Linked DNA regions of Homo sapiens: region 1 is linked to region 2. Evidence: fine-mapped expression QTL. A gene starts in region 2. The other region holds a variant in brackets. All regions are shown on one strand. Distances are between the middles of the regions.

Region 1 (8,000 bases), 23 kb before region 2:
TGCAAGAGGCCGGCAGACCCTGGTACCCGCCCAGTTCACTGTGGAGCAGGTTCCAGGCCACAGCCATCGGGGACCCAGCACGTCCAGCTGAGAGGTGGAAAGGATGAGCTCCCAGCCCACTCCTGAACTGTGCACCAGACATGCCAAGAACCTGCACACAGGTCTGTGGTCACCTGAGCCCCACCAGCCAGGGGACCAGCTTCACCCTCCCCGGGGTGACTCTGGGCTTACCCTGACAATGCCTGGGGAAGGTCCCACAGAGTCTAAGCCACTTCTCAAACTCAGAACAAAGGCCGCCAGGCCTCAAAGGTGTGTAAGCAGACCTATCACCCAACGGCATCAACTACAAACTCCACCTGGTATCCAGTAAATGATTCCAACACACACGAAGGAGCAGGAAAACACAGCCCCAAACTAGGAGAGACTCAAAGCTGATATCAGGGAATCAGTAGACAAAGTGTAGTAACAGTGACTACAGACATGCCCTGTAGAACTGGGTAATGAGCAGAGGCTAGAACAGCTGGGAGAACTTAAAGACAGGAAGATGAGGGAAAGTTTGGAACTACCTAGAGACTTCCTGCATGGCTATGATTCAAATGCTGATAGTGATATGGACAGTGAAATCCAGGCTGAGGTGGTCTCAGATGGAGACGAGGACCCCATTGGGAATGGGGGCAAAGGTCACTCTTGCTATTCTTTAGGAGAGACTGACAGCACTGTGACCCTGCTCTAGAAATCTGTGGAACTTTGAACTTGAGAGAGATGATTTAGGGCACCTGGTGGAAGAAATTTCTAAGCACTAAAGCATTCAAGAGGTGACTTGGCTGCTTCTAAAAGCCTATGCTCACTTGCACAAACAGAAAAATGACCTGAAACTGGAACTTATATTTAAAAGGGAAGCAGAGAGTAAAAGTTTGGAAAATTTGTACCCCTGCCATGTGGTAGAAAAGAAAAACCCATTTTCTGGGGAGGAATTCAAGAAGGCTGCAGACATTTGCGTAAGTAAAGAGGAGCCAAATGTTAATACCTCAGGGACATTTCAAAGACCTTTGCCCAGACACTGCCATCACAGGCCTGGGGGTCTAGGAGGGAAAAGGGCCCCACTACTCTGTGAAGCACTGGGACATGTGCCATGGTGCTCTGTGTCCCAGCCATGGCTAAAAGGGGCCAAGGTACAGGGCTAAAAGGGTCGATGCTTCAGAGGGTGCAAGCCCCAAGCCCTGGAAGCTTCCACATGGTGTTGGGTATGTGGGTAGGCAGAAGGCAAGAGCTGAGGTTTGGCAGCCTCCACCTAGATTTCAGAGGATGTATGGAAAAGCCAGGGTGTCCAGGCAGAAGTCTGCTGCAGGGGCAGGCCCTTCATGGAGAACCTCTGCTAGGGCAGTGCAGAGGGGAAATGTGAGGTTGGAGCCCTCACCCCACACAGAGTACCCACTGGGGCACTGCCTAGTGGAGCTGTGAGAAAAGGGCCACCGTCCTCCAGACCTCAGAATGGTAGATCCGACAGCTTGCACCATGCCATCTGGAAAAGCTGCAGGCACTCAACACCAGCCAGGGAAAGCAGCCACAGAGGCTGTACCCTGCAGAGCCACAAGGGCGGGGCTGCCCAAGGCCGTGGGAGCCCATCCCTTGCATCAGTGTAGCCTGGATGTGAGACAAGGAATCAAAGAAGATTCTTTCGGGGCCTCAAGATGTAATGACTGCCCTGCTGGGTTTCAGATTTGTAGCCTGCTGCCCCTTTGTTTTGGCTGATTTCTCCCTCTTGGGATAGGTCTATTTACCCAATGTCTGTACCCGATTTGTATCTTGGAATTAACTAACTTGTTTTGGATTTTACAGGCTCACAGGCAGAAGTAACTTGCCTTGTCTCAGATAAGACTTTGGACTGTGGACTTCTGAGTTAATGCTGGAATGAGTTAAGACTTTAGGGGACTGTTAGGAAGGCATGATTGTGTTTTGAAATGTGAAAAGGACAAAAGATTCGAGAGGAGTCAGGGGCAGAATGATACAGTTTGGCTCTGTATTCCTGCCCAAATCTCATGTTGAATTGTAATTCCCAATGTTAGGGGAGGGTCCTGGTGGAAGGTGATTGGATCATGGGGATGGATTTCCCCCTTGCTGTTCTCTGTTCTCATGATAGTGAGTGACTTCTCATGAGATCTGGTTGTTTCAAAGCACTTCCCCCTTTGCGTTCTCTCCTGCTCCGCCATGTGAAGACATGCATGTTTCTCCTTCATCTTCCGCCATGATTGGAAGTTTCCTGATGCCTCCCAGCCATGCCTCCCAAACAGCCTGAGGAACTGTGAGTCAATTAAACCTCTTTCCTTCACCAATGACCAGTCTCAGGTGGTTCTTTATAACAGTGTGAGGACAGACTAACACACCACAGCACATCAGCACCAAAGCCCATCAGCACCAAGCTGCTGAGAAGTAGTAATAAGGACAAAATCTTAGAAGTGCTGAGAAAAACAGCTGCTGTGCAGAAAAGTGCTGTCACAGCGGCCTGGGGCCAGGGTCCCCTGGAAGGCAAGGCCAGCCACGGCTGGCATCTGGGGTCCCCCCCAGTGCTAGGGATTGTTCACAGCTCCAACAACAGGAGCAGAGTGGTTTATGCTAAAGTTCACCTTCCCTCCGGGGTCTGGACTTTGGTACCTGCCTGGCAAGGGGGTGCCCTGTGACCCCGAGCACCAAGCCTCTGACGGGCTTCCCTGGTGGGCATTTCACGTGTGTTGTCACAGCTCACTCCTGGGAATTAAGCGTGTCCCATGTGCCTCTGCTGGGAGTGGATCTGGGCCTCACGCTGGGTTTCCTTGGATGTCACTCTTGTCCCTCTGCTGCTGTTGGCACCCTTCCCCTATAATAAATCACGGCCATAAGTGCCTGAACAGAGCCAGCAGAGACAGGTGGAACGTCACCACGCAAAGCAGTGGGACCCATGGATCCAGGCACCACAAATGCTGCTGGAGGTCAGAACAGCTCGGGGGCGCTGCACCGGCAGCCTCCCAGGTGAGGGCACAGTCTCCAGGATGGCCCCACCGGCTGATGCCAACTGAAAGCCCCAGGCTGTGGTCTGTGCTTCCGACTAACCAGCTATCAAATGGGGTTCCCAGAAGACCAGACTTGAGCTCTATGAATTTCCTAGAGTGACTCACAGAAGTCAGGGAAACATCTGTAAATGAAAAATAAAATTCTAAGCCCCATGGACTGAACGGATTCCCACTCTTGGCCAAGGGCACTCCAAAGTCAACCTGGAAAATGAGGTCAGGCCATGATGTGAAGCGGGACTGGACTTGCCTCATTATCCCCTCTTTTGGAATTCAGGCACAGCTGACCAGCATTAACTTTAAAACAGAAATCTGAAGGTTGACAAAGCAGACTCCGTGGTAATAAGACACCAAATTCCGATCCGACTTTAGTACAGCATCACGTGATAGATGGCAGGCCCTGAAAGAAACTGAGTATTTTATCTCAAAATATATCCCTTTGACATATTTTGAAATAGCCCTGCAAAGCTGTATCTTGTGGGAAAAATCTACATTCTGTAGAGAATCTCCTGCCCCTTCCAAGTCTCTTCCTGACCCAACAGAGATTTAACTAACAATCTGGTACCTTTGAGGGCCTCATGAGTGATGTTTGCCATCTACTCTACTCTTTTTGAAGCCTGCTACCTGAAGGCTGAATTCATCTATGTGACAAGAACCTTGGCTTCTACAACTGCTTATGTTAACCATGCACATTTCTTTCTGACTTCAGCTCTTCAGAGCTTAACCCTTTCAACCAAATGCCAATCAGGAAATCTCTGAATCCACCAACGACCCGACATTCCTCGCTTCAAGTTGTCCCGCCTTTCCAACACGAACCACTGTTACAACTGACATGTACTGACTGATGTCCTCTGTCTCCCTAAAACATATCAAAACAAGCTGCAGACCAGTCCTCCTCGGCAAATGTTCTTGGGACCTCCTGGGACTGTGTCACAGCCACGGTCTTCGTATTTCACTCAGAAGAAACCTCTCTAAATACCCTGCAGAGTTTGACTCTTCTGTCCACACACTAGGCTGACATTTACCCATTTATTCTGCGGGGTGTCACCCAGGGTACGGATGGGCCCCAGGTGGGAGCGATGCAGAGGGGACCCGTGGGAAGGGGCTGCCTTCTTCCCAGAGCCTCCAGGCGTCCAGCAATGAGGCTCCCTAGGGAACCCCACCTTTTGGGATTTCATGGAGGCGGTAGGCAACACTGATGAAATCCACAGCCACTGGGGATCGGCCAGACCCCATCCTGAGGTTACCCAGGGGCTGCAACCACTTCTCATTAGCTTAAAAAAGACACAACACTCAGGAGATTCCAAGGATTTTAGGAGCTATGGTCCAAAAACCTGGGACAAAGACCAAATACCGTAACAAAAGATTTTCCTGGCATCCCTGTCTAGTCAGGAAGGGAGAGGAGGTGGAGGCCGTGTGTTTTCTTCCTCTATCACACCTTCACCAGGTGCTGTGGGAAAGTGCCTGTTACAACTCACCCAGAGAGCTGAGCATGGAGATATCCACAGA[A/G]ACGTCGGGATAGGACTTCATCGACATGAACTCCAGAACAGAGCTGCTGCTGTCTCCTAGGGTGTCCCCAACCTGTGGAGACAGACACACATCAAGAGCAATTCAAACATCAAACGAAAAACGAAATGTTACTTCACACTCGCTATTGAAATCACTCTAATTATTTGCTAAACGTGAACCCACCCCTCAGTAAGTGACAAGACCAAGCCCTGTTCACTGAGGCTGCTGTTCAAGGGACTGTCAGGTTGGAGCTCATGAATGGATATGCAAATCCATGTCAAAGAAAAACCTACTGAGACCAACAACGCAAACTAACAATCCTTTGTTAACTTTTTGGGGCTAAAGAAATTGGGGAGGGACATTATGCAACAGGAAGACACACAGAATTTTAGGGTCCAGGACTATTTCTCAGGCACTTCACAGAGCACACAACGTTCCCTTTCCTTTCCCAGCAAGGCGTGTCCTCAGGGCTAGACTACAGCCACCCTAACACATACTCTCTCATCAGCTCCCTGCAGCTCGGCCTCTGCCCTCAAACAGATGTTAAGGGGTCTCTCCAGGTTCCCAGGGACCCTGGACCAAAGCCCAAGCCCATGCCTGCTGACTGTCAGAGACACACACCTGCCAATCGGCAGGTGCAGCAGTCTGGGCTCACAGCACTGCCCTGCCAGCACTGGCCCCAGAGCCCACTGTGCTTGGGACAACACCTGCTACTCACCAAGCAGGTCCTGAGAAGGCCCATCCTGCCCAACCCTTGCAAGGGTGTCCCACAAGGACAGCACCCAGCGGGGCCAACTGCTCTGAAACTACCCATTTCTGGATTTGGAAGAATGTACTGCGGCTTCACACCACTCACCTCAAGTCATGAAAAGAGGAGGAGAAACACTATTGATCTTACTGATCAGAAACGGACTCCATTTCTAAACGCCGTCATACACACAGACCTCCCCACCTCAAAGGCTGGATACAACTTTCCCTGTGAGAATAATATTTGGCTTGCCCTTCCATGTTCAAAAACTTACCTTGGCTTCATCTGGAGGCTTCATGGGAACATTTCTTCTCTGAAAAGTAAATGAGGACAGAAACTAGTTTTTCCAGAGTGATTTCATAGAAACGGACAATTCGCTGACATTACACACACGTAAAAATGGCTTGTGCGCTTCTGCGAATTCTGCTCCCCAGTCACACCATCTTAATGGATTAAGGCTGGGGGTCCTCCAAACCTTCTTCATCACCAGTCACTGACCCAACCACGCCCAGCCCCCTCCTCAGCGCCAGGATTGTGTGCCGGGGACAGCGCTCCACAGGGCGAGATGGAGCGGACAGAGAGAGGACGCCGATGCTGTTTCGGCAGCCTTGGGTGGCTTAAAACAAAAGAAAAAAGATGTGCCTAGATCCTATGGGAAGCTTAGGATAAGAAGGGTCTCGTGGGTTCCACCTGGAATATGACCAGTTGCCTGAGACCAGCTCGAGTCCTGCAGGGGCAGGTGTGTGCAGGAGCAAAGGAGGCAGACACCTCCTGGCAGTGCCTGTGGCAGGTGGGCCTGCCGTGGGCGCAGGAGCGAAGGAGGCAGACACCTCCTGGCGGTGCCTGCAGCAGGTGGGCCGGGCCGTGCATTGTCTCCTTCCACAACTGTCGGCCTCCGTGGCACACCCGTCCTGTGCTCCGGTGGAGCGATGCTGTAGTATATGCACTCTATCATGTGTGATCTTTGTTCGAAATAATGTTTCTCAGATTCAATGACATCGATTTTCACAAGCTTTTAATTAGAAAATGAATACTGCTGTTTTGTTCGCATCTGTTTCCCCAAAAGCCTTCAGTCACTTTAGTCCTGAGCATCATTTACTGCGGGGGTGCACTCGGGGTCACTCAACTCCATATCCAAGTTCACTTTCCCGAAAGGAATCTAACTGGAACCCAGAGAGGAAACCACAGAGCCTTCCCATTTCCGGGCTGTGAGGGGGTCACTTTCCCTACCCCACAGCAATGCCTGATTCTAACGCTGTGTTGGGGGGGCCAGCTTCCTGCCTGGAAGGAGCCTGCAGGCCACGACACGGGAGGGTGACCAGAGCTCAGAGTCAGAACCACGAGCTGGTGGGGCAGGCTCTGCAGAGGGGGCTGCTCCTCAGAGCTGCAGAAATCTGCTTGGGGACTCCCGCCTGGCTGCAACCCTCTCTTCAGGGGCCTGCGAGCCCTCCAAGCATGGAAATCAAGGAAAATCTTGAGTTCCTTCAAGGGAAATTCCAGTTACTTAGATAACTCTGAGAAGTAAATCAGCGACTTGATAAGCAAGAAGGTAACAGTATCCTAAAACAACAGTCAAGGAAGGTGGAGACAGATGTTTGTTCCCTGTAGAAAGTAAAGACAACCTCCCAGCACTGTTCCCTGTAGAAAGAAAAGACAACATCCTACCACTCTGGGAGGCTGAGATGGATGCATCATTTGAGGTCAGGAGTTAAAGACCAGCCTGGCCAACATGGCGAAACTCCGCCTCTACTAAAAATACAAAAATTAGCCAGGTGTGGTGGCGCATGCCTGTAATCCCAGCTACTCGGGAGGCTGAGGCAGGAGAATCGCTAGAATCAGGGAGGCAGAGGTTGCAGTGAGCCACAATCACGCCACTGCACTCCAGCCTGGGTGACAGAGTGAGACTCTATGTCTCAAAAAGAAAAAAAAAGAAAGAAAGTAAAGATAACATCTTAATGTATATCCCTGAGTTGTCTTTCAGAAACCTGGACCCTCCACCTAGGACCTCCCCAACAAACTAATCTACTGGCATGAAGGGCTCAGATAAGGAGAAACTGAAGACTGAGCTCTGACCCCGTTCTTTGTTCTGAATTTCTTCCTGACGGGCCTGGAGGAAGCCACACCCACAAGCCTAAGCTAACATTCTTTTCTCTTCACCCCAAATTTTTAAACAAAGCTTCTCCTCCTTAACCAGCTGCAAATCAGAAAACCTTTGAATCCACCTATAACCTATAAGGCCCTGCTTGCAGATACCGCCCTTCTAGGCCAAGCCGACATGTAACCTCTGTGTCCTTATGCACGACTCTGCCTTTCAGTTCTGCTTTCCTGAGATCTACCCCCGCTTTACAAGCCTTGCCTGTAGCCAGTGGGGGAGGCCAGGATTTATACATGAGCCTCCTGGCCCACCTTGCTTGGCGCCCTGCAAATACACACGTCCTTTCTATGACAAAACCTCGGCATGGGTGTCTGGGTTTACTGCACCAGGCATGTGGACCCCAGTTCATCTGTAACAAGCACAGATGAAACCGTCAGGTCAAGGGACTGACCCCTCCTTGGGAGCCATGAGCCAAACGTTCTCAGAGCCTGGGAAGGACAGAGACTCATCCGAACTCCACCCACAGCAGAGACCACGCTGAAAAGACAGGGCTCCCCGAAGGGCCACTCCTTAGCATTAAGGCTACACGAACCCTAGAATAAGG
Region 2 (8,000 bases):
TCTAAATGATACAAAATCTCTTACAATCCAAAAATTGGATACAACTGACCGAATTTTGTTTCTTAAAAATAAAAAAGTTACGAGCGTCTTTTAATTTATTGTGATAGGTATTTCAGATATAATAAAAATTCCCCCAACGCATCCTGGCGGCCATCAATGTCCCAGCTCTAGCCTTGACTTCCCTCACTCTACTCTGACTTCAGAGTGAGCCACTAATGAGTTCATGAACTCTTCCTACGCACCCCGAAGTGGACTGGGAGTCACCAAGAGAAGGTGCAGGGTCTGTTTCACAGCTGACGAGGCTGGCGTGGGGAATAAGGCCTCAGAAAAGATGACACCACACCCCCCCAGACACTAGCTCTTCAGAAACGCCCCGGTTTACCTCTGAAGCTGGCGGAGGAAGTGTTCCAGGAGTTGCTGAATAGGTGTGCTCTCATTTTCGGCTGACAATTTAAGGAAAAAAAAATTGAATACAAGACTTTGGTATCCCTTCATTAGAGAGCTCCAAGTTCACAGTATCTGTCTGTCTGGTGTCTCACAGCATTTTAAGTTCCACCGAGAACTGGGGATATAAAGATACATCCGACTCAGCCTTGGCTCCCACCAAGCTCAGCCGGGTAGAAAGGGCACCCCCACAGCAGGAGTCATAAAAATCTCTTGTAATAACCGGTAGCCCTTACATCAACAATATGTGGTGATCACTTAGCAATGTTTTCAGCTCATACCACTACTCTAGACAAGAAATGGACGACGGAACAAACGCTCTGGACATAAAGGTTGATCCTGAATTCACCGATTATTATTTCACTTGAGGTCCCTTAAAATTCAACAAAAAGTAAATAAATGGCCGGCGTGGTGGTGCGTGCCTGTAGTCCCAGCAACTTGGGAGGCTGAGGTGGGAGGATCGCTTGAGCCCAGGGTTATCTGAGCCCAGGAGTGAATCACGACACTGCACTCCAGCCTAGGCGACACAGCAAGACCATGTTTCAAAAATAAATTAAAAAAAGAAAGTGCCTGAAGAGCCAAATGACCACAGGAGCTCAGAAGGCCACCAGCTTTCCAGAACTTTCCTTCAGTGGAGCCAGCAGGCCTCAGACAGTTTCTGACGGCCTGAATGATCGCAGCACTAGCCTCCCCACTCCCTGATGTCCCATGTCCCAAAGCCCAGCCGTCTGTTTCCCTATAATCCAGGAACCACTGGATGCTGAGAGTTGCTGGGAAGAGACACCCCTTGTCTTAGGTACAAATGCCTCATCACTGTGAGTTGTGCACAGGAAGGCTGGGGACAAAGAGAACTCAGAGGGCAAGTCCTTGTCAACTGGAAATTCCAGCCAAATGCCATCCTTCGCAGATGGTGCCCACGACAGAGATTCTACTAAAGGCCTCCAGCTTCCTTTGTCTCAGCCTATGGTCACTTTCAGCAACTTCAGACCCACCATTTGGGCCTCGAGGTCCCTTCTTCCCAAGGGGAATTACCTGCGTTTTCACTGACATGCATCTCTCTTACCAGTCTGACCCAGATGGGGCTACTGTTCCAATACTGTCTTAAGTGCAAACAAAACCAAACTTCAAGACCCAGGGCTGGCAAACTTTTTACATAAAGGCCAGACAAAAAACAGTCTAGGCTTTGCGGGTCACATACGATTGGTCTCTGTGGAGATGCCTTTTTGTTTCTTTTTATGAACGCTTAAAAAACATATAAGCCATCCTTAGCTAACAAGTTAAAAAACAAAACTGAAGGGCACCAGTGGTAACTGGCCACGCCTTGCTCTAGACATTCAGAGACACCGGAGGAAACCTCAGGCCAGAGGACACCTGGGATGAGGCCCTGGAAATACCAGCTCTCCTCCCTCCCATGCTTCTCCCCAAAGCAACAGGACACGGTGCCGACCCCTCATTTACAACGATGAGCTGTGAACACCAGGAGAGTCTCTAAAAGTGCACCCTTGCCTGGCTGTGTCCGGCACGCTCGGACTGGCCGATCTGGGGGCGGCTCCACCTCCACCTTCTTCCCAGGATCAAAGTCGTCAGCCTCTCCCTCCGTGTCACAGTGCTCCCTCTCTCGCTTCCGCTTCTTCTCTTCCTGGGCGGCAGAGTCAAGGGAGTGAGAAAGGCAGGAGTAGGCGGGATCCGGACAGGTCTGCCCAATCCCCTCGCAGTTCTCAGGGGAGGGACAGAACTAAGGGAAACCCCCTCCGAGATCCTCCTCATGCCAGGCTCCCTCCTCACAGAGACCCTGGCAGGGTCTGCTGAGGAACAGCACACCCAGGATCCTGGAACTGAGTCTGCGGGCCTCAGCGGTTCGCGTTTTGCTACCAACGGAACACCCCCTCCCCTCCTCCAGCCACGCAGGCGCACTCTGCCTGGGTCCTGGGACCAGGCTCCCCACGGGCTCCTCGTGGGCAGCGTCCGGGCCACCGCCGCTGCTCCTTTACCTTTCGCTTCCTTCTTTCCTCATCGTCCAGATGCTTCTCCTTCTCGGACTTCTTCTTCTTCTTCTTTTTCTTTTCTTTGTGCCTCTCTCGCTCATGGTCTGACCTGTCATCATAGTAACTGGAGTCGTGGCCGGATCCTGAGAGTTCAGTCACTTCACTTCCTCCGACCTTCAGGACTAGCTTTAGAGGCTTCTCCAGGGGCTTGTCGGCATAATCTGCACAGACACAGACCGAGTTCTACCCGCGTGCTCAGGTGCAAACGCCACGCAGCCAGGTGAGACGTGAAGGTGCTAAGAGGGAAAGGCCTCCCTAAGGAGTACAGCGGGGCTGCCAACCAGCAGGGAAAGACGGAAGGGAAGACCACAGTGGCGGCATGTCACTGCCTCCTTGTTCTCCCTTCCCCTCCGCAGGGAGCTTCAGGTCCCTTTCGAGCCACGGTGTCCTCACCAGAGGCCCTGTGGGATGTTGTTCACATTACTCGTTCAAGAAGATGGATTAAGAGGGACCTGGAACCCCGGAGCCCGATCTCCCTCCTAGAAACCCCCAGCACTTCGGTTCACCCTCGCCTGACTTCCTGCAGGCGCCCGTGCTGCCCGCTGACACCCATGGAGCTGCTGCGGGAGCAAGGGAGAGGGAGGGAAAGGCGGGAGAAAGGGCAGCCCAGCTTCTCCCTGAGCTCCACACAAAAGCCAGCACAGATGCTTCCCTAGTCTCCAGGACCGGGGTGAGTGGGCTTGCAGCCTCGAACCCAGAACCCTCTACCAGGAACGTAAGCGCCTACCCAGGACCCCTCACGTGTGCCCGGTTCCCTGCCCGAAATCCCAGGACCCCCTCCCGCGTGCCCAGAACCCCTCCCTCGTGGCCAGGACCTCGCCCGGTGCCCAGGACCCCCGTCCGCGTGCCCGGAACTCCTCCCCCGTGCCCGGGACCCCGCCCGCCGCGCGTCACAAAGCGCCGCCGCCTCACCCTCGTAGGACGAGCGCCACTCGGCCTTGTGCTTCTTGTGCTTCTTGCCCATGGCGGCGCCGGCGGCGGGCCCGAGGCGGGGGCTGGGAACAGCTGGCACCCGGTCGGACCTTGGCCGCCACCGCCCCCTGGCCCTGGCTGGCCGCCCGCGCTCGCTGCGCCGAGGTTGCCGAGCTCGCTGGGCCGCGCCGGAAACGGGGCGAGGCGGGGCCGCGGCAGGAAGTGGCCCTGCCGGGCCCGAGCGCTTCCGGGTCAGGAGGTGGTGCGCCTCGCGCGGCAGATTCGAAGCTAGGGCGGGGCCCGCGGGCTGAGGCAGCGGCTGTGGCGGCGACGCTGGGCGTGAGGTGGCGGCGGCCGCGCCCTGGTTGGGTCCCCACTGCTCTCGGGGGCGCCATGGACGAGGCCGTGGGCGACCTGAAGCAGGCGCTTCCCTGTGTGGCCGAGTCGCCAACGGTCCACGTGGAGGTGCATCAGCGCGGCAGCAGGTGAGCCGGACCTGTCCGACACATCCTCTGGGCACCCACCCGCCCCGACCCCAGCGCGTGCACCGAGCCCCGACCCCAGCGCACTGATTCTGATGCGACCGAACCCCAGGGTACTGATCCGGCCCGACTGGACCCGGGCGCACAGGCCGCCGGGCCCCGACCGGATCCTAGCGCAATGACGCGACCCCACCGCAGGGCACTGACCCGGCCGACCCGAGCCCTGCGCGCAGGACCCCAGCTCACAGATTGAGCCCCGACCCGACCTCAGCTCACGGACCTGGCCCTGACCCTGCCCCTGCCCCGGCTGTCCTCCAGTGCATTGATGTGGCCCTGAGTCCCACGTTGGAGAATAGGATGGCTGCGCATTACAGAGAGCTCTAGTCTCAGCCGAAAGCTGGGTGGTTATTCTTTGAGCCACTGCTTCTCAGACCCTTTAATTGTTCCCGTTCCTCACGGACTCGATGTTAAATTTTTAGGGTTCAAAGCACATCCCACTCATTTGTGACCAAGTCAGTTCATGGTATGGTGGGGCCTGTGGGCTGTGCTGCTCCCTGGAGTGGGGGGAACTCAGCGGCGGGGCCAGACCTTCACAGACCCTCCTTATGTCCACGGAGGGTGGATTGAGGTCAGGTGAGACCACCAGCCTCAGAGGGGATGCAGAGGAAGAGACCTTTCCTTTAACAGAATAGCTGTTGACTGGGTATTTTCTAGGTGCTGGAGTTCAGACACGTCAGCATAATTGCACCAGGGCCCAGAGACACCTGCACAAAGCCCCATCACAGCCTGGCGACACCTGTGTAAACACCTTAGCGCTCAGAGACACCTGTACACAGTGCCACCGCAGCCTAGAGACACCCCATGTACAACCACACCTGGGCCCAGAGACGCTAGGCATAATCACACCAGAGCACAGCTGCACCTAGAGGACAGACACCTACGTACAACTGCACCAGAGTTCATAGACACCTGCACACAACCGCACTATGCATGGTGGTCGCTGCTTGTAGGGTGCTGGGACGATTGCAAAGGGGCCACATGTCACCTGCCTGGCTCTGAGGAGCCTGTCCAGGAGGGCTCAGAGGGAGGCAGACATTGAATAGGACTTAGAGGGTGACTGCAGTTGATCAGGCCAGTAAGCTGGGACAGTGCATAGCAGGGCACAGAGGTGTGATCCGGGACCAGGTCACTGTTGTAGAAAGGGGAGGTGTTAGGAGGACTGCAGCAAGGGGGACCAAGGGAAGCCCTGGATACCAAGCTGAAAGCATTAGATTTTCTCAGCACGAATCACGGCTATTGGAGACTTGTTACAATGCAGACCCCAGGCCTGACCCCACAGCTGTGGAACTTCATTAGTAATAGTGAAAGCCAACATTATTGCGTGCTTACTATGTGCCAGGTATCGTCCTAAACACTTTGAGTGTATTAATGACTTCACAGTAGCCCAGCATAGCGAGAACTCTTACTGTTGTCCCCTTTTTCTAACTGGGAGCTGAGGCACAGCTTCTTCAGGGCACAGCTGGTAGAGGACCCACAGGCAAGGGGTGGCTCTAGATTTGGTCCCAGGCAGGCCAACTCCAACTTACCCTGTTAACTACTGGGCTTTCTTATGTATTGTCTGAGTTTTTCAAAACACTTCATTTTAACATTTTGTTTTTGAACTAAGATCATTTATGTGTGTTTTGGCTTCTTTTTTTAGCACTGCAAAGAAAGAAGACATAAACCTGAGTGTTAGAAAGCTACTCAACAGACATAATATTGTGTTTGGTGATTACACATGGACTGAGTTTGATGAACCTTTTTTGACCAGAAATGTGCAGTCTGTGTCTATTATTGACACAGAATTAAAGGTTAAAGACTCACAGGTAAGTTACTAATTTGCTGGGCCAAGGAACAGTTAGCTGAATACAAAAGGTTGTATCATGAATGTCTTGCCGTTTTCATAGCCTGTTGTCAGAAACAGGTTCACTTCTCTGTTGGTTTGGGTGGCTAGACAAGTTCTTTTCACTAGCTGTCAGGAGCCAGGTGCTGGGAGTAGGAAGTAGCCCTGATGTCGGGGTGCTCTCAGTATAGCAGTAACAGATTGGAAACCAGGAATGAGAATGCAGTGCTGTACAATAGTGGGCTGCGCTGGTAAGGCCTGTGTGCCATGTCTCATTCTTTCAATCAGCAAATGTTTATAAAGTGCTCAGTGTGTGCTAGGACCATAGGAGGTGTGGGGCCACAGAGATGAGAAGATGGGCTTGCCTTATAGAATTCCTTTATCTCATCCCATGCATGGCCACCTCACCCACCATCTGAGTTGATGCGTATGGGTTAGAGGAGCTTTGTGTGAGGGCGTGGAGGCATTGGGGCGATTCTGGCACCAGTATAAAAACAACCTGAAACATTCCTAAGGAAGACTTATCACTTACAGCAGTACAATTCCTGTCCTGTAAGAACCAGCTGTGAAGGACAGGCTTGGTACTAAGTTCTGCTCGTGAGGTGGACCTCCCCATTCATACGTTAGGACTCATGTTTGTGCATGCTCAGAGCTTTGTGCACACTGAGATCTGATAATGCCGTGGTTTTGGCCAGTCTGAGGGAAGGAAGAGCTTCCCACACTGTTGTGGAGGGATGGACACCCTAACTGGAGGGCACGGGCTGCCCAGGGAAAGTTCTAATGTTCTCTGACTGCAGATTCACTTGTAGGAATTTATCGTAGCTGATAATCATGCAATTTTGTAGATCTTTCTGAACAGATGTTTGTTAGATGCTGTTAATAATAGCCAACAATTTGAAATATTTTAACTGTCCACCAGAGGTCAGTTAATAAATGTAGGAATTCCATATATCTACACTATGTACAATATAGCCATTAAGAAGAATGAAATAGATTTCTATCTACCAATGTAAACATTTCTCTGAGTTAATAACAAATGTAAAAAGACACAGTTAGGAAACCGACTGGGCAAGGTGGCTCATGCCTGTAGTCCCAGCACTGTGGGAGAAGGATGGAAGGATCACTTGAGGCCAGGAATTGGAGAATGGCCCGGGGATCATAGCAAGACCCCGTCTCTAAAAAGAGTTTTAAAAAATTAGCCAGTGCGGTGGCGCACACTTGTAGTGTCAGCTACTCAGAAGGCTGGAGGTGGGAGGATCACTTGAGTCCAGGAATTTAATGTTGCTGTGAGCTGTGATCGTGCTGCTGCACTCTAGCCTGGGCGACAAAGCAAGATCCCGTTGCAAAAAATAAGTTAATTAAAAAAAAACAAAAAACCTTATATGATAAAACTCAGTTTTTGGTCCCATCTGTGTGAGTGTATTTATATAATAACGTCCCGGAGGCTGGATTTAGGGCACTTTTTCATTCTGTAAGTAAATGTAGGGCCCAAAGAGCAAGGGATGGGTATTAGCTTTCAAAAGAGCCAATCCTCAATCTGAAATAAAATAATAGCCTTCTCATCTAATCTGAGAACTAGCTTTGATTATACTGTACATTCAGTTTTTATTTGTAGACCTTAACATCTAATTTGTATGGTTGCAGTTAAGTGAGAGTTGGAAATGTGTGTCGATATTGGCTTTTCCCTCATTTTAGCCCATCGATTTGAGTGCATGCACTGTTGCACTTCACATTTTCCAGCTGAATGAAGATGGCCCCAGCAGTGAAAATCTGGAGGAAGAGACAGAAAACATAATTGCAGCAAATCACTGGGTTCTACCTGCAGGTATGGGGTGTGATGGGAGTTGAAGGGGAGGCTGAGGTCAGAGGATTGTATACTCCATGCCATGTCAGTTCACAGGGGGGGTTCTGTTTGTCCATTTGTTTTGTAGGATTTTAGGATGTTTTCTCTCTTATGAAATGGAAAGTATATCACAAAAGAGGAAAGTAGAGATTTCCAGTGTGGGACCATACTGTTCCTTTGGGTGGGTACCTTAGAGTTCCTGGCTAACGGAGAGTGCCCATGTGCTCTTCTCACATGCCTGCTTGGTCTGTCCTGCTGAGTGGCTCCTTGTCTGCTTGATGCTTCTCCGTGGGCATTGCTGATGGGCTCTAGCAGGCCAAGCCCACGGCTTCATTCAGTCAGTGTGTGGGGAAACAGGTGGATTTGGATGGGCTCTAGCAGGCCAAGCCCAG

Evidence for each region.
Region 1: its variant is fine-mapped to the expression of BRD9 in whole blood (TOPMed, PIP above 0.99).

The regions. Positions count from the first base shown.
Region 1 is chr5:865,951-873,950 of GRCh38, forward strand. It overlaps BRD9 (bromodomain containing 9), which reads right to left. Exons shown (of 16, transcript NM_023924.5): 13 at 5,576-5,614; 14 at 4,523-4,625. Among named protein-coding and RNA genes, the nearest start is that of ZDHHC11, 19 kb to the left of the region's middle. The variant A/G (reference allele first, on the strand shown) is at 4,554.
Region 2 is chr5:889,205-897,204 of GRCh38, forward strand. It overlaps BRD9 (bromodomain containing 9), which reads right to left and starts at 3,597. Exons shown (of 16, transcript NM_023924.5): 1 at 3,402-3,597; 2 at 2,436-2,650; 3 at 1,951-2,083; 4 at 383-443. The coding sequence starts at 3,453. It overlaps TRIP13 (thyroid hormone receptor interactor 13), which reads left to right and starts at 3,680. Exons shown (of 13, transcript NM_004237.4): 1 at 3,680-3,886; 2 at 5,583-5,748; 3 at 7,461-7,590. The coding sequence starts at 3,795. RefSeq lists silencers at 2,938-3,156, 3,347-3,966 and an enhancer at 2,966-3,598.